Homo sapiens: one gene and its partners. The protein of the gene in region 7 purifies or fractionates together with the protein of the main gene of each other region. This does not show direct contact. Each region holds a gene or a part of one and is shown on either strand. Other genes may lie near its edges. The genes, in order: SEC24D, NSUN3, ZC3H14, WDR48, METTL5, TRMU and THUMPD3.

Region 1 (4,458 bases), on a different chromosome or scaffold from region 7:
TAGTACTTCCCCACAAAATTGTCATTGTTAATTTCTTTAGTGCATTTCTCACTAGCTAAGTAAATACTATGAGGACTGAGATTAGGCTTATTTTATTAAGTGTCATATTACCACAATTATTTTGTTCATCAAATAAATTGTTAAATTTGTGGCTGGGTGCAGTGGCTCATGTTTGTAATTTCAGCACTTTGGGAGGCCAAGGCAGGAGGATGGCTTGAGGCCAGGAGATCGAGACAGAACTGGGCAACATAGTGAGACCCCATCTCTACAAAAAATTTTAAAATTAGCTGGGCATGGTGGGCACACCTATAATCCTGGCCACTTGGGAAGCTGGGGCAGGAGGATCATTTGAGCCCAGGAGTTCAAGGCTGCAGTGAGCTATAATTTCGTCACTGCAATCCAGCCTGAGTAACAGAGCAAGACCTTGTCTCTTTAAAAAAAAGTGTTAGGGGCCAGGCGCGGTGGCTCATGCCTATAATCCCAGCACTTTGAGAGGCCGAGGCGGGTGGATTACCTGAGGTCGGGAGTTTGAGACCAGCCTGACCAACACAGAGAAACCCCGTCTCTACTAAAAATACAAAATTAGCCGGGTGTGGTGGCGCATGCCTGTAATCTCAGCTACTCAGGAGGCTGAGGCAGGAAAATCGCTTGAACCTGGGAGGCGGAGGTTGCAGTGAGCCGAGATCGTGCCATTGCACTCCAGCCTGGGTAATAAGAGCGAAACTCCGTCTCAAAAAAAAAAAAGTGTTAGTATACAGCACTAGCTTTACAAAAACACAATGAATAAGCATAAATGGAGATACGATAATGTGAGCAACACAAAGCAAGAGTTAGCACTGGCCAGATCTACAGTGGAATAGATACTTCAAAGAACCACAATAAGTTTGCTTGTGTCTGTCAGGAGACCAATAAAAGCGTCACTAAAAGGCTAGACAAGAAGACACAGGAAGACTGAAGATTAAGGTATCTAAGGTTATTCAGCAGAATATAATCAGAGATATAAGAGCTGGAGTAATTTAGTGAAAGTCTTAAATAATTAAACCAAAACACCACAATATGCATAGAAAGATATATTTGCAGAGAGTATAATAGCCTGGTTATTCACCTGATATTTAATAGCCATTAAGTAAGGAGAAAGCAGTTTAAACTAAAGCATGAAGGATTTAATCCAACAAAGACAGCTTTTAAAAACACTGGTAAGGCCAGGTGCCGAGGCTAACGCCTATAATCTCAGCACTTTGCGAGGCCAAGGCGAGAGGATCACTTGAGCTGAGGAGTTCAAGACCAGCCTGGGAAACATAGGGAGATCCCATCTCTACCAGCTACTTGGAAGCTAGGCAACAGAGCAAAACCCTGTCTCAAATAAATTAATTAATTTAATTTAATTAAATATTGGTAAATACCAGAGTGTTTTGCTAATGAGTGCTACAGTTTGTCATCCACTTCATTGAATAAACATTTATAATTAGCTCAATTTAACCATTCCACAGTGTATACATATTTCAAAACAATATGTTGTACATTATATATATATGTATATATAATTTTTTATTTGCCAATTAAAATTTTTTTTTTTAAAAACAGCCATGAGTGCCTTCTCTGCTCCAGGAACATCTACTATAGGAACATCTATTATAACACAGTATGGCAAATAGTATAGAGGCCTGAAAAAGTATTAGAATACAAAAGAATTCAAATTAGATTTGCATGGTATAAAAAAATCCCTCTGGCTCAGGAGTTGATGGTTTGGAAAAAGACAGTATTGGAGAGAGGGATAATAGTTACAAGATCATTTTAGTAATCCATGTGAGAGATGGATGGATTGAACAAAAAGAGTGACAGGAGAATGGAAAGGAGAAAGCAGGTAGGAAAGCTGTTTACAATCACTCCAAAAAGATTTGGGAGACCGATTACATTGGAGGAGATAAAAAGGAGGGAGAGGTTTTTTTGCTTGTTTGTTTGAGAGAGTCTCACTCTGTTCCCCAGGCTGGAGTGCAGTGGCGTGATCTTGGCTCACTGCAACCTCCATCTCCCTGGTTCAAGCGATTCTCATGCCTTAGCCTCCCAAATAGCTGAGATTACAAGCATGTGCCACCATGCCCAGCTAATTTTTATCTTCTATTTTTTTAGTAGAGACCGGGATTCACCATGTTGGCCAGGCTGGTCTCAAACTCCGGGCCTCAAGTGATCCACTTGTCTTGGTCTCCCAAAGTGTTAGGATTACAGGTGTGAGCCACCACACCCCACCAAGTTTTGTTTTTTTGTTTTTTTAATAAAGTTTCTGGTATGGATCACGAAATAAATGATGCTAATGAGTGAGATTTGAAATGCCAGAAAACATAGGCTTCCATGATGAATATGGAATTGTTTTGGGCATGGTGACTGTGACGTGCCTCAACAAAGGTGGGCAACTGGAAATATGGGTCTAGAGCAAGCTTTTCCAACCCACGGCCCACACGCAGCCCAGGACAGCTTTGAATATGGCCCAACACAAATTTGAAAACTTTTTTAATCCATTATGAGATTTTTTTGATTTTTTTTTTTTTTAGCTCATCAGCTATTGTTAGTGTATTTTATGTGTGGCCCATGACAATTCTTCTCCCAGTGTGGCCCAGGAAAGCCAAAAGACTGGATACCCCTGGTCTAGAGCTTAGGGGAGGCATCTGGGCTGGAGAAATAGATCTGAGAGACAAGCACTTTCTGTGAATGATCCAGCTTAGGGAAAAATCTACAGAGTGGGATAACAGTAGTGAAGATGGAACATGGAGGGAGAAACAGCAACACTTAAGAGTCATGTAGAAGAATTCCTTCAAAAGAAATGTCCAGAAAGCAACCCAAAAAAATGGGCACAATGGCTCACACCTATAATTCCAGCACCTTGGGAGGTGGAGGCGGGTGGATCACGTGAGGTCAGGAGTTCGAGACCAACCTGGCCAACATTGTGAAACCCCGTCTCTACTAAAAATACAAAAATTACCCAGGCATGGTGGCGGGCGCCTGTAATCCCAGCTACTCAGGAGGCTGAGGCAGGAGAATCACTAGAACCCAGGAGGCTGAGGCAGGAGAATCACTAGAACCCAGGAGGCGGAGGTTGCAGTGAGCTGAGATCGCAAAACTGCACCCCAACCTGGTCGACAGAGGGAGACTCCACCTCAAAAGACAACAACAAAAGGATAGTGTCATTGAAACCAAAGGAGAAAAGAGTTTTGTAAAAATGAGAGTGGTAAACAGAGTCAAATACAAAAGAGGACAGACAGCACAATGTCTACTGCATTGAGAAATAGGACACTGATAGTCCTGGTGAGGGAAGTGAAAGTGTGGATGGGGTGGCAAACTATGGAGTGTAAACTATGCTGAGCCATGGAGGGAAGGAGAGGTAAAGGTGGAGATTACCAAGCATAGTGAGTACTTTCTCAAGAAGATGCCTGTGAAGAGGGAAGGGTGAATAATATAGAGTGTTATACTTAGGTGTGTATGCAATTTGTTTTTTGCCTTCTTGAGAGATCTGGGTATGAATCCTGGTGCTACTACTTGCTGTCTGTGACCTTAGACAAGTCACATGACACCAGACATTCAGTTTTCCTAGCTGCAAAAATAACTTACTGCATAGCATTGTATGAGGATTAAATAAGACAATACAGGAAAAGCTTTTAGGGCCAGATTTCGACACATCATAAAAAGGAATAATTTATAATTATCATTATAAATAAATGCTGAGGAGAAATGAACCACCAGTTAGAAACTGAAGGGGTTAATGGTTTCTACAGGATCCAGTAAGGCAAGATTACAAACATTCTGGAGAGGATGGTCCTGAACAAGAAGAGGGATGCTTCATCTGGACATCTTTAAAATCTCGGGAAGAATAAATCATAAGACTGACTTTCCACAGGAAATTCACAATCTCAGAGCATCTTCTGCAGCACACTGTGTGTGGCTGCTAACATCAAGCCTCACTAAAGGGAGTCCTCACCCCTTGCTGATTCTGCACTATATACATTCTACCTAGCACAGCCTGGATCCCAGATATCTAAGCTAGTTCCAGTGAGCCCTGAGAGTTACTCATTGATTTATACATGGTCCATTTGTACAAAGAATTGTACAAAGAATTATCCTCACATGATGTACAGATTTATCTAGGGCCAATCCTAGATAAGGATATGTGAATTTAATTCATTTATAAATTTAATTCTTTTTTTATTCAATGTTTACAATAGCCTTACACCACTAATTAACAGCAAGAACAAGACTCACAGTAAAAATAAAACAGGAAGTGTTTGTTTTAGTCTATATTTAAAAACCAAACTTGTATTGCATGCAATAACCAAACTAGTGATGTAGAGTTCTGCTATGAGAGCCTTTTCCAAATGATCCTGTAATCTCAAGCCATTTCATTATATAATGATCATTCAATGCTTTCAAATCTCCTCTTTCAGAACATCTTATGTCTCTGAGCCTGAG
Region 2 (4,458 bases), about 85 Mb from region 7:
TACTGATAATGATATAAAATAAGCTTAAATTCCTAAGAAACAAAAGAAAAATAAATTCCTAAGAAACAAAAGAAAAATTCCTAAGAAACAAAAGAAAAATATTAAAACTGACCAAAAAAAAATTAAGTAAAACTAGACAGATGGTACACAAGAATAACTGAATTTTGAGAAACAGTTAATGAAGCTAAACTAATATATCACACTGTGTGTCACCCTGCCTGCTTACCCATTTCCCTAACTCATTTATATGGGAGCCTTGACTTATTTTTCTCCTTGGCTAAGTGCCTGGGGCCTAAATCCTGGAGTAAATGAATAAAATTGGAGTTCTGATTCAAGGCTCTCTGAACTACTTACTATTTTAACAAAATTAAAGCATTAAAAAATTAAAAGCTAGTTAAGTTAAAATTTTGCAAAACTGTATAATGTATCATTTCGATAATGTTTATTATTTGATAGTATAATTTTCATTCAACTTTTCTGTGACTTTATTCTTTTTTCCTACTACTCTACTCTCCACCCTACCTTCCGTCCTAGTGACGAAGATGAAAAATATCATTTAATCTAGAAATTGTTAAACACAATTAATATAACCCTGTAGATTACAGAACCTATTTAAATTTCCATAGCTAAAAAAGAGAAATTCCTTGATTTAGTGCTATTATTATCCACTAGAGGGTGCTCATTCAACTCTTTTAAAAGTTAGAAATGAAAAACAAATCAATTTATGGAAATGCACCAAAGTATGTTTTTGAGTCATTTTATTTTTACTCCTCAGAGATGCTAACGAAGAGCTGATGGCTTCCTATTCTATTTTGGCAATGGATCTTCCTTGTATCTCACAGAAGGGCAATTTATGTCCAGATTTGTTATTCACTGTACCTCAGATAGGAAATCCTTTGCGTTTCTGGTGGAACATCAAAAGGCTAAAAATCCTGAACATAAGAGTCCTTCATACTACGGGATCTGAGCATACATTTGGAAGGATGCAACTCTGGACCCTTCACAGCAGCACAGATGGTATAGGAAAAGGCGTGGACTTTTAAGTCACAGGACTGAATTTGCCACAACTACAAGATACCTATCAATTGTTCTAACCTCTGACTTTAAAGTGTCTAAAAGTTACTTCTTCACAGAGATTTGCACAGATTAAGGCTGAAAATGTGTGTAAAGCCAACATATAGGACAATATAGAAATCTAGATACTGGTTCATTTCTCTCTTTCTTAACCACCTCAGTCTACATCCTTCACAGATTATGGTAATATTATCAGGTTGTGTGTGTGTATGTGTGTGTGTGTGTGTGTGTGTATTTTTTTTTCCTCTCTGTATGTGAACTCTCGGTCAGTGAGGAGAGTGTCCAAAAAAAAAAAGATGTTGCAGACAGTTCAGACTTATATGGTCTGTTTGTTTTGCTTTCTATAAAGTACATGTAAAATTTCCACAGTTAATAAATATTTCTAATTAATGCTTATATTAATCATACATTTATTAAGTATCCATTAATTATCCAATTAATCATACATGTATTTGAGGGCAGGATATATACAGTCCATTTTTGTATTCTCAGTGCTTAGCACAATGCCTAGTACACAAACACTGACAAAACTGGGAATAAGCAGAAGACTTGCCCAAGTCTCAAGGTATTGGTTCTTCAAAACCCTCCCTTGTCAGGAAAAAGATAAGCAAGTTAGTAAATTATGACGATAAAACCTTGAAAGAATCACAATAGCTCTATCAACAAAATGCAATGGATACACGAAGGGCAAAACTAATTTTGCCAAGGGACATACAGAAGGCTTGATGAAGTGGTTAATCATAGTAACAAAAATAATGCTAATGCATATGAAGTCCTTACTATACGTCAAACAACATTCCATTCACATTGTATATACACAAATTCATTTTATCTTCCCAAATGATTATATGAAATAGATACTATTTTTTCCCCATTTTACAGACGAGGACAATGGAGCACAGAGATATTAACTCACCTAGGTCATATGCTACAAGATGCAGAGGTGGGATTTGAACCCACACTACTGCACAGAGGGAGAAGGGAAAAAGGCATTCCTAGCAGAAGAACAGCATAGCCAGTCCCAAAGGCATGAAGGAGCCTGCCCAGAAAGATAAGATTTTTAGTCCAAACATAATACTGCAGACTTCTGGGGAGCAAAGGTTTGTACTCAAGGTGTGACACAATGGAATTTGGTAGCACCGAGAAACAGCATGACAGAGTGGGTACAACAAACTCTCAAGGCTCTTCAAAGTGTTAGATGTGTATACTTGGGCAAGTTAAAGTGTGAGATGTGTATACTTGGGCAAGTTACTTAACCTCTGTGTGCCTCAGCTTTCCTATATATAAATGGAAATAACTATTTCAGAGGGTTGTACATAGGATTGTTATTATTCATAAAGTGATTACAACATTGACTGGTACATAGTGCCATAAAAGTGGTTGCTAAAATAAGCAAACAGGTAAGTACTAAACATGGCTGTTGCAATATGCCAGATAAGAGATTGGGAAGGTCTAAGTGAATGGCAGCAGTAGAGAATTTTTTTAAAAAGATCCAAATTAAAAGGGGGCAGGGTAGTTGAGTCTCAAAGACAACTCTCACTTCTGACACCAATTACAAGTTCAGGGATTCCAAGGATGACTCTCAGGTTTGATTATTCACTGGGACACAACCGAACTCACTGAAAGCTGTTATAATCACAGTTATAGTCACAGTTTATTATAATGAAAGCATACAGATTAAAAACAATCACAGGAAGAGACTCATAGTGCAGAATTCACAACAATTCAAAGCATGAAGCTTCCAGCTGTCCTCTCCAACGGAATCATCAACGAGGTCAACTTTTGCTGGCAGTAATGTATGACAGTATGCACAAGAGTATTGCCAACCAGGGACACTCACCAAAGCCTTGGTATCCACTTTTTATTGGGGCTTGGTCACGTATATATGATTGACTGTCCATACAGCTTTTAGTCACAAGCCCTTCTGGATGTTGAGTTGACACCTGTGGTCCCCAGGCCTCAACATAAATCACATCGTTAGATTATCAGGTGTGACCTCAACACCCAGGTAAACAAAGACACACTTATCAGGAAGCACATTCCAAGGGCTTAGAGATCGCCTCCCAGGAGCTGAGGGCAGTTGCCAGACCTATTTTTATATAAGGTTCATTTTTTACTACAAAGGTAGTGAAGGTATAGAGAAGAAAGGAGGAAACCAGACTGATGGTGATACACTTAATTGAGATAAAATATGCAGGTAGCAAAGGCAACATAAGTTTGAAAGGGAAAAATAATAATACACTTTTGAGTTTGCCAAGTAACTGAAGTTGCTAAAAAACAGAAGTATGGGACTAAATCTTAGGAAGAACCTCACAGCTTGAGATGACAGCATACTGATAAAAGTCATGCCATGAATGGGCTTACCTGAGGAGAACATGGAGGCAACAAATAGAGCAAGAATTGAACCAGGGTAAACTCCAATTTTAAAGGGCTGCTCAGAGGATGACTAGACAAGAAAGGTTACTAAAAAAGAGCAAAACTAAATACTAAATCTTCCTCACTACTACAGGAAACTAAAAATATTGAATAAATTACTTTCTAAATAGGCCAAAAAAAGAGCACTTGACTTTCCCTGGAAGTAGACTCTACAAGTACATTATGTCTTGCAAACAAGCAGTTAAAACACAAAATATTTCATTCTGTTCTTATTTCCCCATACCATCTTCCATGCTCAGACTACTTCCTAAGCTGAGAAACCTTTATTTTGCCTATGGCAAATTTAGTGTGTGTTTATGCAAAACTTAAATTACCACAAAAACCCCACAATAGGGTAAATGAAGCAGAAGGCACAGCTAATTAAATGGATTTGAGGTTCATTGCTCATTTTGCTCAGGGTCAAATAATAGTATATGACTTTCTGAGTACACTAAGTAGAAAAATAAGTCATTATAGGATATGAGTAGCCAGACTGCTACAAAGTCTACAGAAAAAAAAAAAGCCTCTTGAAATCTTTTTTTTTTTTAAATCACATCCCAGATATGAGACAGTACAGAACAAGGATGAGCTGTGGGAGTTATTGAGTCAGACAACCCAGGCACAAGCCTCAGCTCTGCCACTTATTAGCTGAGTGAACTTGGGCAAATTACTTAAACTCTTAACGGGTTTGTTCTGAGGATCATGTAAGTCAGTATTGTCTGGCATATAGTAAACATGCAATAAGTGTTTGGTTATTTGGATACTCTATTTGAGTACCTTTGTATACTGAAAACCTCATAAATTTATTACATACTTTATTATTCAGTTCTTCATCTCTGTGACAGAAAATACCCATTTGAAAATCTACTTTTGAAATAAAACCCACGAGTATAAACGGTTTGCATATTACAGCATTTACCAATTTCTATAACAGCTTAATTGTCCTAAAATTATCTCAGAATCACCTCA
Region 3 (4,458 bases), on a different chromosome or scaffold from region 7:
ATTAGCCAGGTGTGATGGTGCATGCCTGTAATCCCAGCTACTTGGGAGACTGAGGCAGAAGAATGGCTTTCAACCTGGAAGGCAGAAGTTGCAGTGAGCTGAGATGGCTCCATTGCACTCCAGCCTGGGGGACAGAGAGACTCTATCTCAAAAAAAAAAAAAACAAAGAAAGCAAGCTATAAAATCTGTGCTGCCATATGACAGTGAGTGAAAAGACAGCAGGTTAAAACAGATGTTGTTGTTGGTAGCATCCTTGAAACAACCCAACATAAAACCAACCAGAAGCAATTGCAGTTTCAAACTCCCTGCTCACAGGGGAAGTGGTGCAGAGACTAGAGACTCCTGAGAACTGTTCTGCAGGAGTCTCTCCAGCCACACCCCTATGCTAATCTTACAAAGCTTCATCCTTGAGCAGCAGGGAAACACTGAGTCCCCAGTCAAAGCAATGGGAAAGGAGGCTCACCACTCATCATGGCTGTCAGCACAATGGCCACAGCACTGGCAAGAATTTTTACTAACATATTATTTATGGTGTCACTGCTGCTACATGTATACCCCATAAAGCCTCATATGGACACCTACATTTAAATGAAACCAGATCCTAATAGACCAAAAAATTAAGGTACCAAATTGAAAATCAAGAGTAGTGAAAACACTGGAGTCTTCTCTTTAGACAAAACATACAGAGTCAATAAATCGGGACTGCCTACTGCAGCTTTTACTATTTTTTAAGTTTTTCTTCCTGTTGATAGGGTCAGATTTTCAACTCCCTCCACTAATCAAAACCACGACACTACGTCATTGATTCACAGTAGGAAACGCAACCAATTAAAATAAAGCTAAGTGTTATTGCTCCACTAACATATGATTTCCCTCTGAAGTCTATTCTATTTTTAATGATCGAGAAAGGTATTCAATACATTTTCATATCTCTTCCAAGAAGAGGATTACTCAAGGAAATGTTTCAAAATCCATTACTGTTTTTCCTTTGAATCTGTACGCTTTTAAGATTGAGTAATTATCCCTCCTGCCAATGAAGAGGTGCTTCTAAATATTTTAGAAGATATAAGGAACATAATTACCATTCTCTATCATGAATGGAAATGATCAGTGGCGTTGCAGCTACCACTGATACCCAGTGAAAGAAACGGTGATAAGAAACTGTCACCTGCCAAAAACTATGGTGCTATCTGAAATGAGTTCATCTGAGTTCTGCTAAATATTACTCTTCAACATTAATTTAAACAGTTCCAAGATCTTGATAGATTAGGTGAGAAACTCCTTTCAAAGAAATTTCACTGAGGTAGAAATAGCATCAAATCTAAATTTTTCTCTCAAGTTAATTGCAAGAGACTATTGCTGATAAAAGGGCAAAGTGGCAGTACAGTTTCTGAAGAAAATACAAAGGTAAAGAAGGCAACAAGAATGGTGGTTCATCCTTTAGCCAGCATAAGCGGAAGAGGTCTCTCAGGTTCCATGGCTGAACTCCGTTTTCAAACTGGAGTAACAGCCCACCTATGAAAAAGACACAGGAAAAAGAGTCTGAAATGTACTTGGTGGGTTTGTCTGAAAGAAGAAAAAAGGCCATTACTGAATATAAATAAAAGCAAGGCCTTTAACCAATATTCATTCAAGGTAGAGAAACAAGTCAAAGATTCCCTTCACAATGACAGCACCCTGAAAATCTGAGCTCTCAACACACCGTTAGAAAAGCTACCATTTGGGTCCTCAAGCTGCCTGCTCAGCAAGTGCAACTGCTGTGGGTGGAGGAGACCTCTGAGTCCCTTGTTTGAGGCTGCAGTTTGGTTTACGGGTTTCATTCCTTCAAAGCACATGTCCTCCTCTTGATCTGACATGTATCCTGGGGGGCTGGGGACACCATCCAGCGTCACTATAAACTTGGGACTTGCAGGTTTATCTGGTTGTACAAGATCTCTGCCAGACAGATAAAAAATACCATAGAATTAGGGAAACAAACACAAAACGCTGAGCCCCCTAAAGTGCTCTTCAGCAGAACTATCACTCCCTTGGCTTTGCGTTTGGTTCAATAAAAAAAGACTAGGTAGGGCTACCAGGTGCAGCACTGGTGGGTTCTCTGCTAACACACGATGGCCATGAACAGTCACAGTGGCATCACCAGTGACCCTCCAGCCTGTACTTACTAAGGACAATCTCCCCTCAAGCCTGACCCCATCACCCATTCGATCTTCATAGGGTCAACATGGAAACAAACCAAAAAATTAGCATCAATGCTCAGAACACAAGGGCCAGCAGCATTTATGCTAATTATCTGTATGTTTCTTCTTTTATAGAAACAGTCAATTTTCTAAGGGAAAAATCACCCAAACCTGATCTGCCAACTCTCTTTAGAGCTGACCTGATTATGGTCAGCTGGCTTTTAAACTTGCATTTCCTGAATTTGCATAAAGAAAAGAATCTTTAATAGAGTTAAATCATACACTGAGTTGTAATTTGTAGGTTAATGGATTTCTGAACAAGAAAGATGAACTGGAATTCTTGAAAACTGAATTTGGCTAACTATTCATGGGCTAGCTACTGAATCAATGAAAGCACTCTACGCTAGCGGTTAGGGCGGGGAGGAGGGAAGCTGCAAACGAATGGTTAACCTTTACTATCTAATCACACAAATTAACTACACAAGAAAAAGAAACCATCTACCGTGTCTGCATAAGGTGTCCTGAAAGTACCCGAAGGGAATCTGCAGTCTTCATCCCCGACTCTTGGTTTGGTGCCACTACTACTTCCTCAGACAGCTTTGGCTTCTTCAGAATAAATGATCTTGTGTCTGCATGGACCATGGATTCCATGTCATAGTAATCTGAGCCAAAAAAATTGGCCACAAATGTTTACTTTTGAATATACCTTACATTCCCAACATTATATATGTGAGAAGAATGTCAATCTTTTATATATTCAAATTATTTCAAAGGAAAATCACAACTGGTTCCACTCAGGAAAACAGGGCTATAATTCTATTCCAAACATGTTTTCAAAGAACTCAAGGAGTCCTTCTCGCGTAGGGCACGGCACAAGTGATTCTGATTAACACTCCCTAACCACAGCAGAGAAAGGTTCTCAGGTGAGGCATCTCAACAGATATTAACAATATACCCTTAAAGTACAAAAATCTTTTCTAAAAACCTGGAGAATTTGAGTCCTAATGCTCCCTATAATTAGAATACACAGACTGCTGAACCACTTTTCCAAAATCTGGTTTGTTCACTTCGCACAGTACCACTTAGAATCATGTCCTGATAAAAAGAATTCAAGTGGTATAATTTCCAGTTGGTTATAAACCGAGGACTACTTTAAAAGGTAACTGAAAGGTGAATGGACACTTAAACATATGTATCAAGAAAAACACTGGCCTTTAATGCAAATAACCATAAGCTCACATCATCTACTATTTTATAAAATATGCCAAGACCTACAACCCAGAATGGCTGACCTATCAATACGCCATCAACGGACTGAAGTTAATACACTTCTTTTAAAGCTTAGAGACCAAAATTTACAGGGTATTCATTTATGTTCATTCACTGAGTATTTACTGAACAACTAAGAGAACTGAGCTAGATACACAAAGAAAAAAAGAAAAACAGACACATATACAATTTCAGAATAGCATGACCCAAAAGGGATGTGAACAAGGTGCTGAGAATACAGAACAGCCCACTCCAGCCAAGAACCAACGAAAAGCTTAGCAAGGAGGAACATCTGAAGTCAGCAGTAAAGGAACAAGCAGGAATAAACAAGGAGAGAGACTCGGAGAAACGAACACAGCACTTCAGGCAGAGGAAAACGCACGTAGAAGGAAAGGGGCTTTCACAAGGCCGAAGGCATCTGAGAAAGGTTAGAATGTGGAATGGCTGGAAGGGTGTGTGTGGTGGGCTCAGCAGTACATACCAAGGAAGGCTGACACATATAATAAAGGTTCTTCTATGTCTCAGTGACTCTCGATTCTGGTCTATAATTAGTAAGAAATCAAGTGGCCTGGTGTGGCGGTTCATGTCTGTAATCCCAACATTCTGGGAGGCCAAGGCACAAGGATTCCATAAGCCCAGGAGTTTGAGACCGGCCTAGGCAACATAGTGAGACCTCCCATCAACCAGAAAATAAATAAATAAATAAAATTAGCCAGGCGTGGGAGCACATGCCCGCAGTCCCAGCTACTTGGGAGGCTGAGGTGGGAGAAGTGCTTGGGCCCAGGAGGTCAAGGCTGCAATGAGCAGGATTGTGCCACTGCACTCCAGCACGAGTGACAGAGGGAGACTCCATCTCAAACCAAAAAAAAAAAAAAGAGAAAAGAAATCAAGAGAGGTTCCTAAGGAAGGAAGTGGCCTGATCAAACTGGTTTTTAGAAAAACAGTGTTAAGGAAGAACCAGAGTTCTCGACCTGCTGTTGCCCGGGACAGAGGGTGAGGCTCTGAATGAAAA
Region 4 (4,458 bases), about 30 Mb from region 7:
TCAAGTACCCTGTTTGTCTTTCTGGCCACTCATCTCTGCTCCAGGTTCTGGTGCATTGTGCCTCCAGACCATCACACATGCTGGTCCTCTCTGTTTGGAAGCTCTTCCTCCGACCTGTCTGGCTAACTCTTGTTGCAGCCTTCAGGTTTCCATTTAAACAATACTTCCTTTAGAAGGCCTTCCCTGACTTGCCAAGCAAAATGAGGTTTTGAGCTCCTATCACATACTAAACTTTTTCTTCAGGGCATTTTCCCCTACTTTGTTACTGTTGGTGACCTCTGTCTGTTCCTTGTGAAAACAGGGGATCAACTGAAAACAATTACACCTAAGAAAAAGTCAATAAGCTGGCTGGCAGCCAGAAGTAAAACTTTCTAATGTAATGAAATAAACAGTTAAAAATTAACTCAAGATGGACTAAAGACTTAAATGTTAAGACTTAAAACCATAAAAACCCTAGAAGAAAACCTAGGCAATACAATTCAGGACACAGGCATGGGCAAAGACTTCATGACTAAAACACCAAAAGCAATGGCAACAAAAGCCAAAATTGACAAATGAGATCTAATTAAACTAAAGAGCTTATGCACAGCAAAAGAAACTATCATCAGAGTGAACAGGCAACCTACAGAATGGGAGAAAATTTTTGCAATCTACCCATCTGACAAAGGGCTAATATACAGAATCTACAAAGAACTTAAACAAATGTACAACAACAACAACAACAAAAACAACCCCATCAAAAAGTGGGCAAAGGATATGAACAGACACTTCTCAAAAGAAGACATTTCTGCAGCAGACACAAGAAAAAATGCTCATCATCACTGGCCATCAGAGAAATGCAAATCAAAACCACAATGAGATACCATCTCATGCCAGTTAGAGTGGCAGTCATTAAAAAGTCAGGAAACAACAGATGCTGGAGAGGATGTGGAGAAATAGGAATGCTTTTACACTGTTGGTGGGAGTGTAAAGTAGTTCAACCACTGTGGAAGACAGTGTGGCGATTCCTCAAGAATCTACAACTAGAAATACCATTTGACCCGGCCATCCCATTACTGAGTATATACCCAAAGGATTATAAATCATTCTACTATAAAGAAACATGCCCACGTATGTTTATTGCAGCACTATTCACAATAGCAAAGACTTGGAACCAACCCAAATGTCCATCAATGATAGACTGAATTAAGAAAATGTGGCACATATACACCATGGAATACTATGCAGCCATAAAAAAGGATGAGTTCATGTCCTTTGCAGGGACATGGATGAAGCCAGAAACCATCATTCTCAGCAAACTATCACAAGGACAGAAAACCAAACACCACATGTTCTCACTCGTAAGTGGGAGCTGAACAATGAGAACACATGGACACAGGGCAGGGAACATCACACACTGGGGCATGTTGGGGGGTAGGGGGCTGGGGGAGGGATAGCATTAGGAGAAATACCTAATGTAAATAACAAGTTGATGGGTGCAACAAACCAACATGGCACATGTATACTTATGTAACAAACCTGCACGTTGTGCACATGTACCCTAGAACTTGAAGTATAATAATTAAAAAAAATTATCTCAAGTACCTATAGTGATTCTATTAGGAACAATTATACCCTTTCTCCACATCTTAAACCAAAAACGAATTTTTCTATGAATTAAAGACTGAAATTTAATAACCATAAAAATAATTTTTGTTTTTATTTTTTGAGAGAATCTTGCTCTGTCACCCAGGCTGGAAAGCAGTGGCCCGATCTTGGCTTACTACATCCTCTACCTCCCAGGTTCAAGCAATTCTCGTGCCTCAGCCTCCTGAGTAGCTGGGATTACAGGCATATGCCACTGTGCCCAGCTGATTTTTGCATTTTTAGTAGAGATGGTGGTTTCACCATGTTGGCCAGGCTGGGTTTCAAGTGGTCCACCCGCCTCAGCCTCCCAAAGTGCTGGGATTACAGGCGTGAGCCACTGCACCTGGCCAGCATAAAAATAATTTTTAAAAGACAGGTGAATATTTACATAGTCCCTTGCCAGAGAAAACTCTTCCAACATGCCAAGAAAGATGGTAATCTTTACGAAGGAAAAGAGCAATGGTGATCTGGCCAAATACAAGTCAAAACCTTTTCTATGTACAAGAATGTTCACAGCATTGTGGCATTCACAATAATGTTACAAAAGTGGAAACAACCCAAATATCCATCAATGGACAAAACAAATAAAATGTGATGTGTGTGTGTGCATATATATATATATATATGCACACACACACACTGTACTGACACATGCTATAACGTGGATGAACCTTGAAAATGTGCTAAGTGAAAGAAGCCACATATTTTACAAAAGGCCACATATTTTATGACTCTATTTATATATAATGTCTAGGATAGACAAATCCACACAGAAAGTAGATTAGTAATTGCCAGGAGATTGAAGGAGGGAAAAATGAAAAACGGGGAGTAATTGCTAATGAACATAGAGTAATTAAACATTCTGGAGTTAGGTGACCAATAAACAACTTTCCGAATATACAAAAAAATCACTGAATTGTACACTTTGAAAGGGTGCACTTTATGGTATGTGAATTTTATCACAATGTTATTATTTTCTTAAACCTTCTGAATGTCAAAAAGTAACACGAGCAAGACTAAGAGAATAATGAAATAAATATGAAAGAAAGTTTACTCTTAACAAGATTCCTTATAAAATAAGAAAAAGTCAAATTTACCAACAGAAAGAGGGACAGTTACAAAAAGGGACTTTTTAAAAAAGAAATGGCCAAAAACCCCATAAATAATCAAAGACAAAATTAATATGAGATTATTTTACCTATAATACAAGAATTTTTTAAAATAACTGCCATTTTTGTTTCCCCTGAGGATAAATAAACACTTTCTGACAAAAGTTTTAAACTCTTTGAAATGTTCTTTAAAATTCAATTTCCAGAAATTTGTCCTTTAAAAAGGGCCAGGGCTGCAGACACAAATAGCTACAAGGATGTTGTTTTAACCCAGTCTTTTGGATGCAATTAACTGTAACTGAGATCTACTCAAACCAGCTTTTGTTTGTTTGTTTGTTTTTTAAAGGAGACTTCAACACAAGGATATCTTAACAGAGCCCAAGGTCAGGAAATACAGTCATCATTTATAAGAGGCATTTAAAAAATCAAATCATGACACTTCTCTGCTGAAACTTTCCAATGGCTTTTCACAAAATTTAAAGTTCAAACTCCTCAAATGCTTAGTTCTGACCCTGCATCCCCCACTCATTTCAAACTGACTGCCCCCAGCTTCTTTTATGACAGTCATTCCAAACTCCTTTCTGTTACCGTAAACACATCAAGCTCTTTCCCATCCCAGTACCTTCTCATTTACTGTTGCCAGTGTCATGAAGATTCACCACCCCTCGAATCCCTATAGGAATACTCTTTCTCCAGCTTTCATCTTGTCTAACTCACCCTTACTCTTCAGATCTTAGGAGAAAGGTCTCCTTGGAAAGGCCTTTCTGATCTCATTCTCCTCAGGGTTATGACCCTATCTATCTTACATTACTTATTTAACAGTTCTTACCACATTCTGTATTTTTTTTTTTTTTTTTTTTTTGAGACGGAGTCTCACTGTATCGCCCAGGCTGGAGTGCAGTGGTGCGATCTTGGCTCACTGCAACCTCTGCTGCCCAGGTTCAAGCAATTCTCCCAACTCAGGCTCCCGAGTAGCTTAGATTACAGGTGCCTGCTATGGCGCCCAGCTAATTTTTGTATTTTTAGTAGAGACAGGGTTTCGCCATCTTGGCCAGGCTGGTCTTAAACTCCTGACCTTCTGATCCACCCACCTTGGCCTCCCAAAATGCTGGGATTACAGGTGTGAGCCACCGCGCCCAGCCACATTTATATTTTTTGGTGTATCTTCTCCATTAGAATAATAGCTCCAAGAAGGCAAGGGACTTGTCTGCCTTGTTCCTTCCACCCCTGTGCCCCCATTATAGTGTCTGGCATATAAAAGACATACGTATCATTGCATGAATTGGCTTTCCAAAGCCACCAGGAACCAAGCTAGCTTCAATGTCAACTTCAGCCTCTCTCAATCTCTCTTTCTCTGGGGTTCCAGGGCTGCTTACCTAGCTCACATTTCCTTTAACTGAGACTGTGCAGCATATCTAAATCTTGATATCCAGACTTCTGGGAGATTATCTGACTGGTTAAGGCAAGAGTGAAAGAATAACCTGAATGTCAGAATTCTCATTCTAGGTGGAAAGTAATTACTGTTAAAACCAGTCTGGGCCAACCTCTTCAACGGTATTTCCTAAAGACGTGTGCTTTAAAATGCAAAAGAATTAGAAGTATCCTAGTTGGATAAATTCTAGCACGCACATCTGTAAAACACAACACTATTCAATCACTTAAAATGTTGATGTAGGCCAGGTGTGGTGGCTCATGCCTGTAATCTCTGTGCTTTAGGAGGCTG
Region 5 (4,458 bases), on a different chromosome or scaffold from region 7:
ACAAAAAAGGATTTTTTTAAAAACTATTTACTCTTACCATTCTTTCTTAAAAATATTTCAGCATCAAAGAAAGAACCGATATGAGTATATGGCAATGTTTTTAACAAGCTGAGGAAAAACTAAACGTTTTGACTTTTTTTTATTTTACCTCAGAGACTGGGCACAGTTTTGTCATTCTTGGCATTGCTAGCAGAGACTATTTTTTGAGAAACACTGGTGGGTATTAGCTTCCTTTATGGTGCCTCTTACTACATACCAAATCATTACCCCTTATCTTTTACAAAAATAATCTGGAATGGCATTTGGGGAGGACTAAGTAATGCAACACAAGAAATTATTTTAGAAAGAGTCATTTGCACAAATTAGATTTTAGTCACCGGCTTGCTTACTTATTCTTTTTTTTTTTATTTTTTAGCATGTATGCTCTATACAATCCATAACACTTATGATGACATTGAAAATAAAGTCGTTGCAGATCTAGGATGTGGTTGTGGAGTACTTAGCATCGGAACTGCAATGTTAGGAGCAGGGTACGTAATGCAATATATGCTATTTGGGTATTGGGTGGCTTTAATAAGGAGCATCAATGGGATTAACTGAATTATATTTATGAGACTCCACAGAATGAGATATAGGGAGCAAAAATCTGATACTGAATACATTTTGAATGGGCAGAAGATCTAAACAAACTACAAAAATTAAATAAAAATGGTGAAAGCAGCAGTTCCTTTTATACAAACCTGAGTTTCCAACCCCTGCCGGGTTTGGAAATTATGCTGTTACACTTGACTGGGCACAGTGGCTCATGCCTGTAATCCCAACACTTTGGGAGGCCAAGGTGGACAGATTACTTGAGCCCAGGAGTTTGAGACCAGCCTGGGCAACATGGTGAAATCCCATGTCTACAAAAAATACAAAAATTAGCTGGATGTGGTGGTGTGCGCCTGTGGTCCCAGCTACTTGGGAGGCTGAGGTGGGAGGATTGCTTGAGCAGTGCAAGATGGCACCACTACACTCACCTGGGTGGCACAGCAAGATCCTGTCTGAAAAAAGAAAAAAAAAAAGAAGAAAACACTCACTCTTACTTTGCTAATTGGGTTAAAAAGATATATGGTTTAAAAAAAAAACAGCTAATTTTGGTTTTGTTTTTACTTGGGAGCTATAAGTCGCCACTCTTTGTATGTGTTTTGTATTTATAGGTTGTGTGTTGGATTTGACATAGATGAAGACGCATTGGAAATATTTAATAGGAATGCAGAAGAGTTTGAGTTAACAAATATTGACATGGTTCAATGTGATGTGTGCTTATTATCTAACAGAATGTCCAAGTCATTCGATACAGTAATTATGAATCCTCCCTTTGGGACCAAAAATAATAAAGGTTTGTAACAAGAATCGGGTATATTGGTATATTTATAGAAAAGATTTTAAAACCATTTTTAAGGCCAGGCGCAGTGGCTCAGGCGTGTAATGCCAGTGCTTTGCGAGGCTGATACAGGAGGATCATTTGGGGCCAGGAATTGGTAGCCATCCCGGGCAACATAGTTAGACCCTGCCTCTACCCACACACACACACACACACACACAAATTTTAATTTCCCAAGTGTGGTGGTGCACCTATAGTCCTAGCTACTCAGAAGGTTGAGGTGGGAGGATCACCTGAGCTCAGGTATTCGGGGCTGCGATGAGCCATGAATGTGCCACTGCACTCCAGCCTTGGTAACAGCAAGACCCTGTCTAGAAAAAATTAAACAAAAATAAAAACCATTTTTATCACTGTTTGGGCTAAGTGATTTTATCACTCTTCATTAAATAAACCAAGGCTAAGTGATGTTATTACTCTTCATTAAGTAAACCAATCTCTTATTTGTATAGTTCTTATAATTTACATTTCAATTTGTTTAATGCATGGCTAAGAAACTGAGTTTTTCAACTTTCATTTTTACAAATTTGTATTAAGTAAACAAAGATAGTCATGTCATTTATTGTATATCTCCCATTTGCTTTCAGGAATAATTTGCCTAACCCTTATGAATGAATACGAAACATAGAAAGAATTTTATACTTTCAGAATCTGTTTTTTAATGTCTTAACAGACCCAAGGGTTTCTACATGTGCCCATCAGTAACAGTGACTCACCGTGGCTGTTAATTTTGTGTGTACTGTGGGCAAGGAGGTTAGGAAGTCAGTGAGGGTAGGAAAAGACATGCATAGTTTGGCCGGGCGTGGTGGCTCACGCCTATAATCCCAGCACTTTGGAGGCTGAGGTGGGTGGATTACCTGAGGTCGGGAGTTTGAGACCAGCCTGACCAACATGGAGAAACCCCGTCTCTACTAAAAATACAAAATGAGCCAGGCATGGTGGCACATGCCTGTAATCCCAGCCACTAGGGAGGCTGAGGCAGGAGAATCACTTGAATCCGGGAGGCGGAGGTTGCGGTGAGCTGAGATCATGCTATTGCACTCCAGCCTGGGCAACAAGAGCGAAACAAAAAAAAAAAAGACATGCATAGTTTAAAAAGTACCCTGCCCCCACCAAGATGATTCTGAATAGTACTCTATGCATTTCCTTCTCCCCTTTTTGAAGTCATTAATGTTGGAATATAATATTAAAATTTTTACTTTATCCTTATTTAACCAAGACAGTATAATTCTGGTTTTATTCTACCAGCCTTAAAATAATATTTTGATAGTTTATTTGTACCCTTATTGCTAAAAGATTTCAAGGTGGCTATTTTGAAGTTTGGAAGAAAATATTTCTAAATCCTACTAACTTAATCTTCTGTTTTGAGAAGAGGTAAATAGGAGCTTTTTTTCTACTCTTCACAGGGACAGATATGGCTTTTCTAAAGACTGCTTTGGAAATGGCAAGAACAGCAGTATATTCCTTACACAAATCCTCAACTAGAGAAGTAAGTTCAAATCATCTGATATTCTGTGGCATTGATTTTTAAATTCATGACAGTGTTTTTAGGATTTGCTGTGAATACTAGATACCACAGTATCTATTTCTCCTGACCATTTTGACATGTGAAACTTAAATTTTCCACTTAACCAGCTAGCATCTGATTGGCCTTTTTCCAGGCTATAAGACTTATTTCCTCAAAGATTTTTTTCAGACAGGAACTGTTGCCAGAGGAGAGACTATAACTCAGGAGTAGAAAAGTGTGTTGTAACTAGGATTACTGTATGTTTTGGTTTCTCTGAGTAAGTCTTAGTTGATCCCTTTTGTCCCATTGTCCCGGTGTGGCCTGATGTACTTAAGGGAGGCAGTAAGGCCAGGTTTTCAGAACACTTGAGCCTGGAGCTAAACAGATCTGAGTTCAGAAATCACCTATTCTTACTTTTGCAGCATATAACACATGGAGAGGTGTATAAGTTGTAGTCCAGGAAACTGGGGGAAGGGGCAGTACATTTTTTTAGTGTCAGTATAACACAATAGTTAGGAACAGAGATTCTGAAGCCAGACCAGATTCTCTGGGTTCAGATCCAAGTTCTGCTGCCTCCCAGCTGTTTTCTTGGTCAAGGTAATTGAGTTTCATCATCAAGGTAATTGAGCTTTTGTCATCTATACTATCCTCACCTGTACTCTAAGTGTAAGGGACTGAGAGTACCAATTGTACTTCATAAGAATTGTGAGGATTACATGAGTTAATATTTACAAAGCACTTAGATCAGTGTCTGACATGTGTAATTGCTATGTGTTAGCTATTATTATTTAAATCATACATGTATTCAAAGATTTTAAAGTGCTTTTGTAGGAAAAATACTTAATTCATGTAAATACAGTACGTAAGAACCCAGTTGGAAATAATACATTCTAGTTACATGGTAATGTGATAACCTTTTAAAAAGCATAAAATATAACAGCTAAAAAGAACTATACTGCTAATAATAAGTAGTGGTACATGTAGGCAAGCAACAGGACACAACATAGCTAGTAAATAAATCCTCACTCACTATATATGAAAGCAAACACCAGTAAACATTGGTATCCAAACCTGTGTCCCCAAGAACACCCTCAGGTTTGATGATTCACTAGGAAATCTCACAGGACTCAGCATCTAGTCTTATTCATGGCTATGATGTATTACAGTGAAAGGATATAGAGCAAAATCAGCAAGGAGAAAGGTGCATTAGGCAGAGAATGGGGTAAACCAGGGCCAGGCTTCTGGAGTCTTCTGCCAGTAGAATAACACAGGACACAATTAATTTTCCCAGCATGAATTATTGATAACACATGTGAAACATTGCCAACCAGGGAAGCTCATTAGAGACTCAGTGCCCAGGGCTTTTATTAGGGACTGATCATGTAGGCAATTCCCTTTCTGACACATACCCAAATTCTAGACTCCCAGTAGGAAAACAGGTGTTCAGCATAAACAGTGTTAGGCACAGTCAGTCACTATTATTAAGGGAGTAGGGAGTGGGAGGCTTCCCAAAATCTAAGTTCCCAGT
Region 6 (3,522 bases), on a different chromosome or scaffold from region 7:
TGGAGCCTGGGGGCTCAAGGGGGCAGAGGCAGGTTTGTGTCCCCGCTTCCTCCACTGGCCGATGCACAGGCCCTGAGGCTGGCAGGACGGTGGAGCCCGCTGGAGGTTGGAGCGGGGGCAGCCTTAGCGCTGCTGGCCTGGTGCCCACACCACCTTCTGCCTGGCTGCCCCACCTCCCACCTACTCATGTTTCTGTGACCTGGGAGGGTTCACCTAGGGCAGAGCAGTAGGCACCACAAGGGCTCTCCCACCCTCAGTTCCCAGGCTGGAGGCCCGACCACAGCCATAAATCAGGGAACCCCTGAGCCCAGGGAGGCTCCGTGCTGGGCTGAGCTGGCAGAACAAACGCGGCGCTTTAGCTCGGCCTCCATGCCCAGCTGGGCCGAGGATCCCCAGGGGCCTGTCTGGTCCCACTGGCCAGCGCTCTGCCTGCCTGGTAGAGCTGGGGCTTGCCCCTGGCCAGGGCAGCACTGACCCCACACCCCCCACCTCCCCACCCCAGCCCAGCAAGGGCCACGGCTCCACCTTAGGCCCCGTTTCCTCACCTGGCCTGCGGGGTTCTGGCCCACTCCTCACCCTCAGGACACTCCCTGCTGCGTGGGGGCCTAGGCTAGAAGGAAGGGTGCCCCAGGTCAGGGGACACCCAGTGGGGAGATGGGAGGAGGGGTCAGGATGGACAGTGGGCCCCATGGCAGCCCCCACCCTGACGCACCAGCAAGAACTCAGGGCATCTGGGCAAGGCCCTCTGCGCACCACCTGGCTGCCTCTGGAACCTTCCCACCCAGAGAAGGGGAATGCACCTCTGGTCCCCGCAGGAACCTGTCTTGAGGCACCAACAACACGCTACGAAGGACTCAAGCCCAGCAAGAGGAAGAGAGCCAAGGACACAGGTCAGCATCGCAGGCACCTACTCTGGAGTCCAGGAGCAGGGATACGGGGGCAGAGGATGGAGCAGCTGGGACCTCAGGGAGAGGTACGCAGGTTGCCATGGCTGCGTCTGCAGTCCACCTGCCTTTCCACGCCAGGGAGTCAGTGATGTGGAGCCCCCTGGGCCCCAGTGGAAGCAGCGATCAGACTATGTGTCCTTGAAATAATGTTTATTCCACGCTGTCCCGACAGCCCCCTCTGCAGGTCCCCTCGGTGTACTCTGAGGTGGGAAACCCTCCCTGGGGGCGGTGAAGGGGAACTCGGGCCACCCCACCAGCCAGCAGATGCTCCAGCAGCCAGAGCCCCAGCCTGGAGCTGAGGCTCTTCCTGGGGCTCGCCGGGCCCCTGCAGGCTTTTCGGACCCTCAGCCAGCCCGGCTTCCTCTGCTTTGGGCAGCAGCAAGCTGGCCCTTGGGCACCTGGACTGCTCACCAGCCGCCCAGCCATGGGTCCTGCTCTCCAGGTTCCTTCTAGCAGATCCATCTCTGTCAGAGCAAGGGACTCAGGCCTGGACCATCTTCTGGGCTGTCACTGGGGCTCTCAGTGGCCATCCCAGCTCTGCGCTGGCCCTTCTGGAGCGTGTAGGCAGACGGCCCCAGCCGCAGGATCTTCCCGCTGCCCAGGCACTCGTCCCCCTTGTAGAACACAGCAAACTGTAGGGGAGAGACCCTGGCATCAGGGGTGCCACAGGGAGCCAGCCGAGGGCAGGCAGGGGCAGAGTGCTCCCCTATGGGGCCTGGCCTGTGCTCGGAGCACCAGGCACTGAGCTCCCAGGGGAGCAGGGTTTTGCTGCTGCTGCTGCTGCTGAACAGGAGAGGAGAGGCCTGGGGCACCCAGTGGCTTCACTAGGGAGGGTCTTCAGGGTACCTCTCCCTGAGTGGGACAGTCACAGGGGCCTCTCCTGGGACTCCAAGGGACTGGCAGGTCTCTGCACCCCTTGGGAATGTGGAGCTGTGACAGGAAGGAGCATGGTGGCAGCCAGAGGATGCTTCCGCTTCCCTCACCCCAGGTTCCCTCCCACCACCTGCCCCTGGAGATTCCTCAGGCCTACACCCACCAGGCGCCCACCCTGGGAGCTCCTGCACACTCGGCCCACAGGGGCCCCGACCCTCTGCCTCTTTGAGCACTGTCCTCATGCCCCTTCCATTTTCTGTCCTCGCTTCTGGGGCCCGGGCAGCAGCTGAGCCTCTCAGGGCCCGAGCAGGAACTGGCTGGTTGGTGACACCAGAGTGGAAATCCTCTCACAGTTGTCACTGTGGGAGGAGCCCCCAGGGCAGGGCTGGTGGCACTCTGCCCTCACCAGCTGTGTGACCCGAGCACACCCTACTCCTGGGCCTCAGCCCCTTCCTCTGTAACCCGGGTGCCCTGGCAGGGTGCAGAGCAGTACAGTCCTCCCCGGGCTCACCCCCACACCCCACGCACCTGTCCTGTGGCAAGGGCACGCACAGCCTGCACAGCTGTCACCCACACGGTGCCATCTTGATTGAGGGTCAGCACACAGGGCACTGGGTAGAAGAGAGGGGCCCTTGGAGGGGGCACAGGCCTTTCCTGGTCGACCTCAGGCCCCCAGGGAGAAAGGAGCACCAGCCCACGGGGTCAAAAACCCCTGCTTAGAGGGGAAGGGCAGGGCACCAGCCTGGGCCCTGGACGCAGCAGGACACTGCGGGGCAGTGTACACACTTGCTTCAGCCCAACACGCCGGGGCCTGCCTGCATCTGCTCCCAGCACCCCCAGGCCTCGCTCAGGGCAGGCACAGGACACGGGAGTTCTAAATACTTTAGGTAATCTCCAAATGATCTCCACAACGGGACTTTCCTACCCCAGGGTCTCCCATCCCTGGCCCAAATCTGGCCTCAGGAAGCTCAGCTTCAAGGGGCCCGTCCTCAGGAGCCCTCCCGTCAGTCACCTAGTGCCATCTGGTGGCGGAATCGGAAGTGGCACTCCATCATCTTGTCCCGGACCAGTGCTGCGGGAGGCTCCTCCGCAATCCAGTGCACGCGGCTGGTCCTCAGCAGGTCCCTGTACAGGGCTGGGTGGTCTGTCCGGGGGGCCTGCAGAATGGAATGTGAAGGTGGGGACGCCGAGGGGCACCTGGCCCCAAGGCCGGCCTCAGTGTGGTCCCTGGGAACAACTGTCCTACCAGCACACACACACACAGGTAACGGTGCTGGCACCGCTCGAAGTGTTCTACCCACAGAAATTCATCTCATCACCCGCCGGGCCTTTGAATCCCCATTTTACAGATGAGGAGACTAAGGCCCAGGAAGGAAGTACCATGTCAGAGTGGGCAAGAGGCAGGGGTGAGATCCGAGCCCATGACAGTGAATGCTGCAGGTTCAAGTCTGACTCAGGCCCTCTACCTGCAACCACCTGTGGGGCAGCAGCACGGCCCCCCTCGAGGACTGGTTTTTCTATTCGCAGGGACAGGGGCCAGCCACACCACGGGCTCTTCTCTCAAGGCCACCCCAGGAATTCCTCCACACACCAAATGGCTGAGGAGAAAGGAGGGACTGGTAGCTGCTGGCTTCCCACAGGTGCCCCAGGACTGGCCCTGGTCTGGGGGGCCCCAGATACCCTAGGTTGGTTCTGAGGCCCC
Region 7 (4,458 bases):
GCACTCCAGCCTGGGTGACAAAATGAGACCCTGTACCCAAAGCAAAAAAGAAGCCTATGTAAAAATATACTGTTTAAAATTTTGTGAAATTAAAATGAGTCTATAAAATATTCTTCCAATATGTAGGGGAAAAGACATATGAATAAGACAAATGAAAAATTGCATATGGTGGGGAAATTATCGCTAAAATAATATTTTAAAAATATAACTTATTTTCAATAAACTTTAAAAATGTAAATGGAGTCTCATAGTATATTCATTTTGGTTACAATGACGTCACAATGCACTGGGAGTTTTAATTCATAAAGTCAATATAAAAAGTGATTCTCTAACTCTAAAAGATGCTAAGAAATCTTTTAAATTTTTACCCTTCTTTAATTTGGCTCTTGGTCAATAAAGATGCAATGTTATTTGCTGCTCTATTCACAGCCAGTGGATTATTATCACCAGCAATATGGAAACAGTCAGACCATTCAGTGGCCCCCTAAAAGATAAGAGTGTATGTTAAAACAAAAGTAGCAAACTGTAAAATATGATTAAATTGTCAACAAACAAAGAAAATCCAGTGCTTTTCTAGAGTGGCAAAACATTGCATGTTGTCAACTGTGCTATTTCCCTGGCTGAAAATGCCCTCTTATTCTTTCTCTGCTTGCTGAACCTCTACCCATCTCTTAAGACCCAGCTCAAACCTCATGCCCTTTCAACATCAACCTTAACTCTCCAAGCAGTCTTATGTGCCCCTCCCAAAAACACTTTGTATGTACGTACCTCTGCCACTGCACTTGTCCCACGGTTAATTATTTCTTCCCCTTTATGCCTCTCAACTAACCTGGGAGCTCTCTGAGGTCAGGTCTAGTATTTTATTCAGTTCCTCATCCAGCAGTGTCTGGCACACTAAATTCTAAGTTAATGCGGTTTGAAAATATTTGAGATTTGTGGTTGTGGGAGTTTACATAATCTGATATATTTGAAAATTGCAAAATAAAATGCTATTTCCGGCCGGGCATGGTGGCTCACACCTGAAATCCCAGCACTTTGGGAAGCTGAGGCAGGAGGATTTCTTGAGCCCAGGAGTTTGAGACCAGCCTGGGAACATGGTGAAAGCCCATCTCTACAAAAACACAAAAATCAGCTGGGTGTGATGGTGTGCACCTGAGTCTCAGCTACTCGAGAGGCTGAGGTGGGAGAATGGCTTAAGACAGGGAGGCAGAGGTTGCAGGGAGCTGAGATTACACCACTGCACTCCAGCCTGGCTGACAGAGCAAGACCCCAGGTCAAAAAAATAATAGTAAAATGCAATTTCCTTTGTATGATAGGCTTTTGAATGGTAACCACCATATCACTGGAAGGATTTTGTAATTATAAATAAAAAACCTGTCAGCAGAACATAAATACCAAGCTGTCACATGTCATTTGTGGAATGAGGTGACGTGACCCTAGGCCTGAACAATGTTCTATGCAGATTAACAGAAGGTTTCTGACACGAAAGCCGGGAAAGGTCTGCCTCTGCTTAGGGGTGAGTAGCAAACACCTTTGTGTTCCTTTGTGAACAGTAACATACTTCTCATCCATGAGTGCAGTGTTTCATAACTTTTTCTTTTGCCCAGACACTTGAGGGTGATAACATACCCTGTCTACAATCCTACGATGACATCAAACAAAAGGGAAGTTGAAGTATCCCAGAATTTTGGGTGGGTGGGGATGTAGAGGGGACCTAGAGTTTGAGGAAGGCTCTCAGTGATTCCGATTCCCAAATATTCTTTTTTTTTTTTCCTAAACCTATTTGGATTTTCAGCATTGGAAAGAATTGGGTTTTATAGCATAACACTTCTAAATTAAAAAAAAAAATTATTCTAGATCAAGTATTTTATACTTTGGTGAACAAATCTTTATATATACCTTGTCAATTTATTCATAATTTTATTCATTTTGATCATATATCGGCTTAGGTTTTTCTACATTGACATCTGCATGTCTACTCTTACATGGAAATGGCTCAAACTTCATGTTTTAATTTTTTTCGGCCTTTATTTTTACTCGGAGCTCTGTTGTGTATTTCTTGACATGCGGTGACCTTACCTGCTATTTCATACACATATCATGATTTCATACTAGAAAACAACACTCTGCTTTCTTCCCAGAATCCTTCTTGGCCACAAGAAGGACTGGGTTTTTACTGTGCAGTCTCTTTAAGCCACAGTAATTTCTCTAGCTTTCACGGAACACAGTCACATGTAGACTTCTATGATTTCAGTCTTGGATTTTAACTCCCAGAACAGATACCATTTTCTAATTACAGTTTGGATTATTTCTCCCCTTGTGGGCTTGCTTTGGACTTGCTCATCTGTCCAGTTTCTACCCAATCATATAATCTGCTGTGTCTCCCTGCAGTTTATTCAAATTGGCTGTCAGTATACTATATGGAAGAACTACTATGTTTCACACAAACTTCAGTGATTTTACTGGGAGCTCCCTCTTCTAAATTCTTTAAAAACATATAGATGATACTGATTATTCAAGGGGAATCTACTGTGAAATATTCTCCATTTAGAAAATGCCTTTCCATTTCTTGCTTTGCTTTACACAGTTTTTATGAGTCCTCTCAATATCATGGTAATTTTGAAAACTAAGAGCATTTGGTATTAAGCTTGTTAGACTTCCTAAAAAATCCAAGTAATGTTCATAAGTTTCCCCTTTTTACAACTATACTTATTCCCTCTAGGAACTTAAGTGGATTACAGAGAAGAAAATTGCCTTCCTCCAGTTTATGCTTATGCCTTCAATTATCTTTTCCCATTCAAGTCTACCAGCTTGTCTGTTACACAAAGAGGACTCATCGGCAGTTTGTAATTCTCAGCTTCCTCTGTAATCTAGTGAATAGATGTCACTAACAATGTATCTAGGCCAGTGGCACATGGCTCTTTGAAATAAGTAGTTACATTCTTTACAAAAAAGTTCCACTTTCTATTGTTAATTGTTTTAAAACTCTTGGGTCCACTGATCCAACCATGGAGATTTCATTATGTCTAATTTGCCCATTAGGTCTAGAATATTCTGGATGTATCACTCTTATCTAAAAGCTAAAGAAATATGATTACCTCTATTGGTATTGCCCCAGTTCCACACATTGGATCGACTATTATATCATAAGGTAGAGGATCACAGAGCCTAGAGAAAAGAAAACAGCCTATGTGAAGACTCACTCAAAAGCTGAGGCTTCTATACTGATGATTCCTGAAGCTTTAAGATTGAGGACCTACCACACTAGCCCGAAGGAACACCAATCTACACATATTTTAGAAATCAATTTGTGGCCGCGCACGGTGACTCACGCCTGTAATCCCAGCACTTTGGGAGGCTGAGATGGGTGGATCGCTTGAGGTCAGGAATTCAAGACCAGCCTGGCCAACATGGCGAAACCCCGTCTCCACTAAAAATACAAAAAATTAGCTGGGCGTGGTGGTGGGTGCCTGTAATCCCAGCTAGTACAAAGGCTGAGACTCGAGAATTGCTTGAACCCAGAAGGCGGGGATTGCAGTGAGCCAAGATCATGTAAGATGCAGCCTGGGTGACAGAGCAAGACTCCGTCTCAAAAATAAATAAATAAATAAATAAAATCAATTTATAATGATATGTTGACTGTATATTCCATTACTTGGGGAAAAAAAATCCTTATAACTAAATCTCCTTTGACTATCTTCCAAAATCCCATTTCACTCTCAGATGAAATTTAGTTTGCAGACATCTTAAAGTACACATGTGTACACACACACACACACACACGCTCATGCATACTTTTTGACAACAGTGTTGTTTTCAACAGAAACCTGTATTACATTAAAAAGACTCAAAAATGTCTCAAGTCAAACATGCATCAATATAAGGTTACTGGCAATGAGACATTCAGTATTCCTTTCCTTCTGAATTTAAAGCTAATCTTGATATAAAAAAATTGCTCTGTGGGACTAGGTAATAAAAAAAGGAAAAAAAAATGCTTTACTTTGAGCACTTAGTATTTCCTGGGCATGGACTTAAGCTCTTTCCATGCATTATCTCACAGAATCCTCAGTAAGGACCCTGTTAGATAATTATCATTATTCTCATTTTAAAGGTAAGCTGATGCAAGGAAACATGAAGTTACCTGCCCAGGGACACAAAACTAGTAGGTAACAGATTCAAGATTAGAGGCATTACTGTTAGTGGCTTAACTGTTATCCTCTTTATGAAGCATCCCACCCTGAAACAGGTCAGTAGGTTTCTTCCCTTCTCTTGTTCTTCTAATCTTTTCATGTGCTGGTGTGGGACTTATCGCATGTATGATAACTATTTATCTCCCTCACAAGACAGATTCTTGGGGGTTAATAGTGGGTTCTTATTGTAACATTGGTCCTGCTCTATCTCCTTGCTCCTACTCCTCAACACATGGCAATAGAATCCTTGGCAACCCTCTTGAGGGGG

What was found.
Region 1: the proteins of THUMPD3 (region 7) and SEC24D fractionate together in Homo sapiens (co-fractionation; one large-scale study listed by BioGRID). This does not show direct contact.
Region 2: the proteins of THUMPD3 (region 7) and NSUN3 purify together in Homo sapiens (co-immunoprecipitation; 3 studies listed by BioGRID and IntAct, with this or other methods). This does not show direct contact.
Region 3: the proteins of THUMPD3 (region 7) and ZC3H14 fractionate together in Homo sapiens (co-fractionation; one large-scale study listed by BioGRID). This does not show direct contact.
Region 4: the proteins of THUMPD3 (region 7) and WDR48 purify together in Homo sapiens (co-immunoprecipitation; one large-scale study listed by IntAct). This does not show direct contact.
Region 5: the proteins of THUMPD3 (region 7) and METTL5 fractionate together in Homo sapiens (co-fractionation; one large-scale study listed by BioGRID). This does not show direct contact.
Region 6: the proteins of THUMPD3 (region 7) and TRMU purify together in Homo sapiens (affinity purification with mass spectrometry; 2 studies listed by BioGRID and IntAct, with this or other methods). This does not show direct contact.

What each region holds. Positions count from the first base shown.
Region 1 is NC_000004.12:118,829,081-118,833,538, forward strand, and holds part of SEC24D (protein transport protein Sec24D), read right to left. Parts: intron 1-4,458. UniProt on the Homo sapiens protein: Component of the coat protein complex II (COPII) which promotes the formation of transport vesicles from the endoplasmic reticulum (ER).
Region 2 is NC_000003.12:94,065,635-94,070,092, reverse strand, and holds part of NSUN3 (tRNA (cytosine(34)-C(5))-methyltransferase, mitochondrial), read right to left. Parts: intron 1-4,458. UniProt on the Homo sapiens protein: Mitochondrial tRNA methyltransferase that mediates methylation of cytosine to 5-methylcytosine (m5C) at position 34 of mt-tRNA(Met). mt-tRNA(Met) methylation at cytosine(34) takes place at the wobble position of the anticodon and initiates the formation of 5-formylcytosine (f(5)c) at this position. mt-tRNA(Met) containing the f(5)c modification at the wobble position enables recognition of the AUA codon in addition to the AUG codon, expanding codon recognition in mitochondrial translation.
Region 3 is NC_000014.9:88,600,305-88,604,762, reverse strand, and holds part of ZC3H14 (zinc finger CCCH domain-containing protein 14), read right to left. Parts: intron 2,840-4,458; coding exon 2,680-2,839; intron 1,936-2,679; coding exon 1,703-1,935; intron 1-1,702. UniProt on the Homo sapiens protein: RNA-binding protein involved in the biogenesis of circular RNAs (circRNAs), which are produced by back-splicing circularization of pre-mRNAs.
Region 4 is NC_000003.12:39,058,214-39,062,671, reverse strand, and holds part of WDR48 (WD repeat-containing protein 48), read right to left. Parts: intron 1-4,458. UniProt on the Homo sapiens protein: Regulator of deubiquitinating complexes, which acts as a strong activator of USP1, USP12 and USP46. Enhances the USP1-mediated deubiquitination of FANCD2; USP1 being almost inactive by itself.
Region 5 is NC_000002.12:169,818,015-169,822,472, reverse strand, and holds part of METTL5 (rRNA N(6)-adenosine-methyltransferase METTL5), read left to right. Parts: intron 1-415; coding exon 416-530; intron 531-1,199; coding exon 1,200-1,381; intron 1,382-2,829; coding exon 2,830-2,912; intron 2,913-4,458. UniProt on the Homo sapiens protein: Catalytic subunit of a heterodimer with TRMT112, which specifically methylates the 6th position of adenine in position 1832 of 18S rRNA.
Region 6 is NC_000022.11:46,354,899-46,358,420, reverse strand, and holds the end of TRMU (mitochondrial tRNA-specific 2-thiouridylase 1), read right to left. Parts: intron 2,978-3,522; coding exon 2,833-2,977; intron 2,432-2,832; coding exon 2,349-2,431; intron 1,580-2,348; coding exon 1,415-1,579; 3' UTR 1,081-1,414; downstream 1-1,080. UniProt on the Homo sapiens protein: Catalyzes the 2-thiolation of uridine at the wobble position (U34) of mitochondrial tRNA(Lys), tRNA(Glu) and tRNA(Gln).
Region 7 is NC_000003.12:9,376,529-9,380,986, reverse strand, and holds part of THUMPD3 (tRNA (guanine(6)-N(2))-methyltransferase THUMP3), read right to left. Parts: intron 3,169-4,458; coding exon 3,099-3,168; intron 485-3,098; coding exon 369-484; intron 1-368. UniProt on the Homo sapiens protein: Catalytic subunit of the THUMPD3-TRM112 methyltransferase complex, that specifically mediates the S-adenosyl-L-methionine-dependent N(2)-methylation of guanosine nucleotide at position 6 (m2G6) in tRNAs.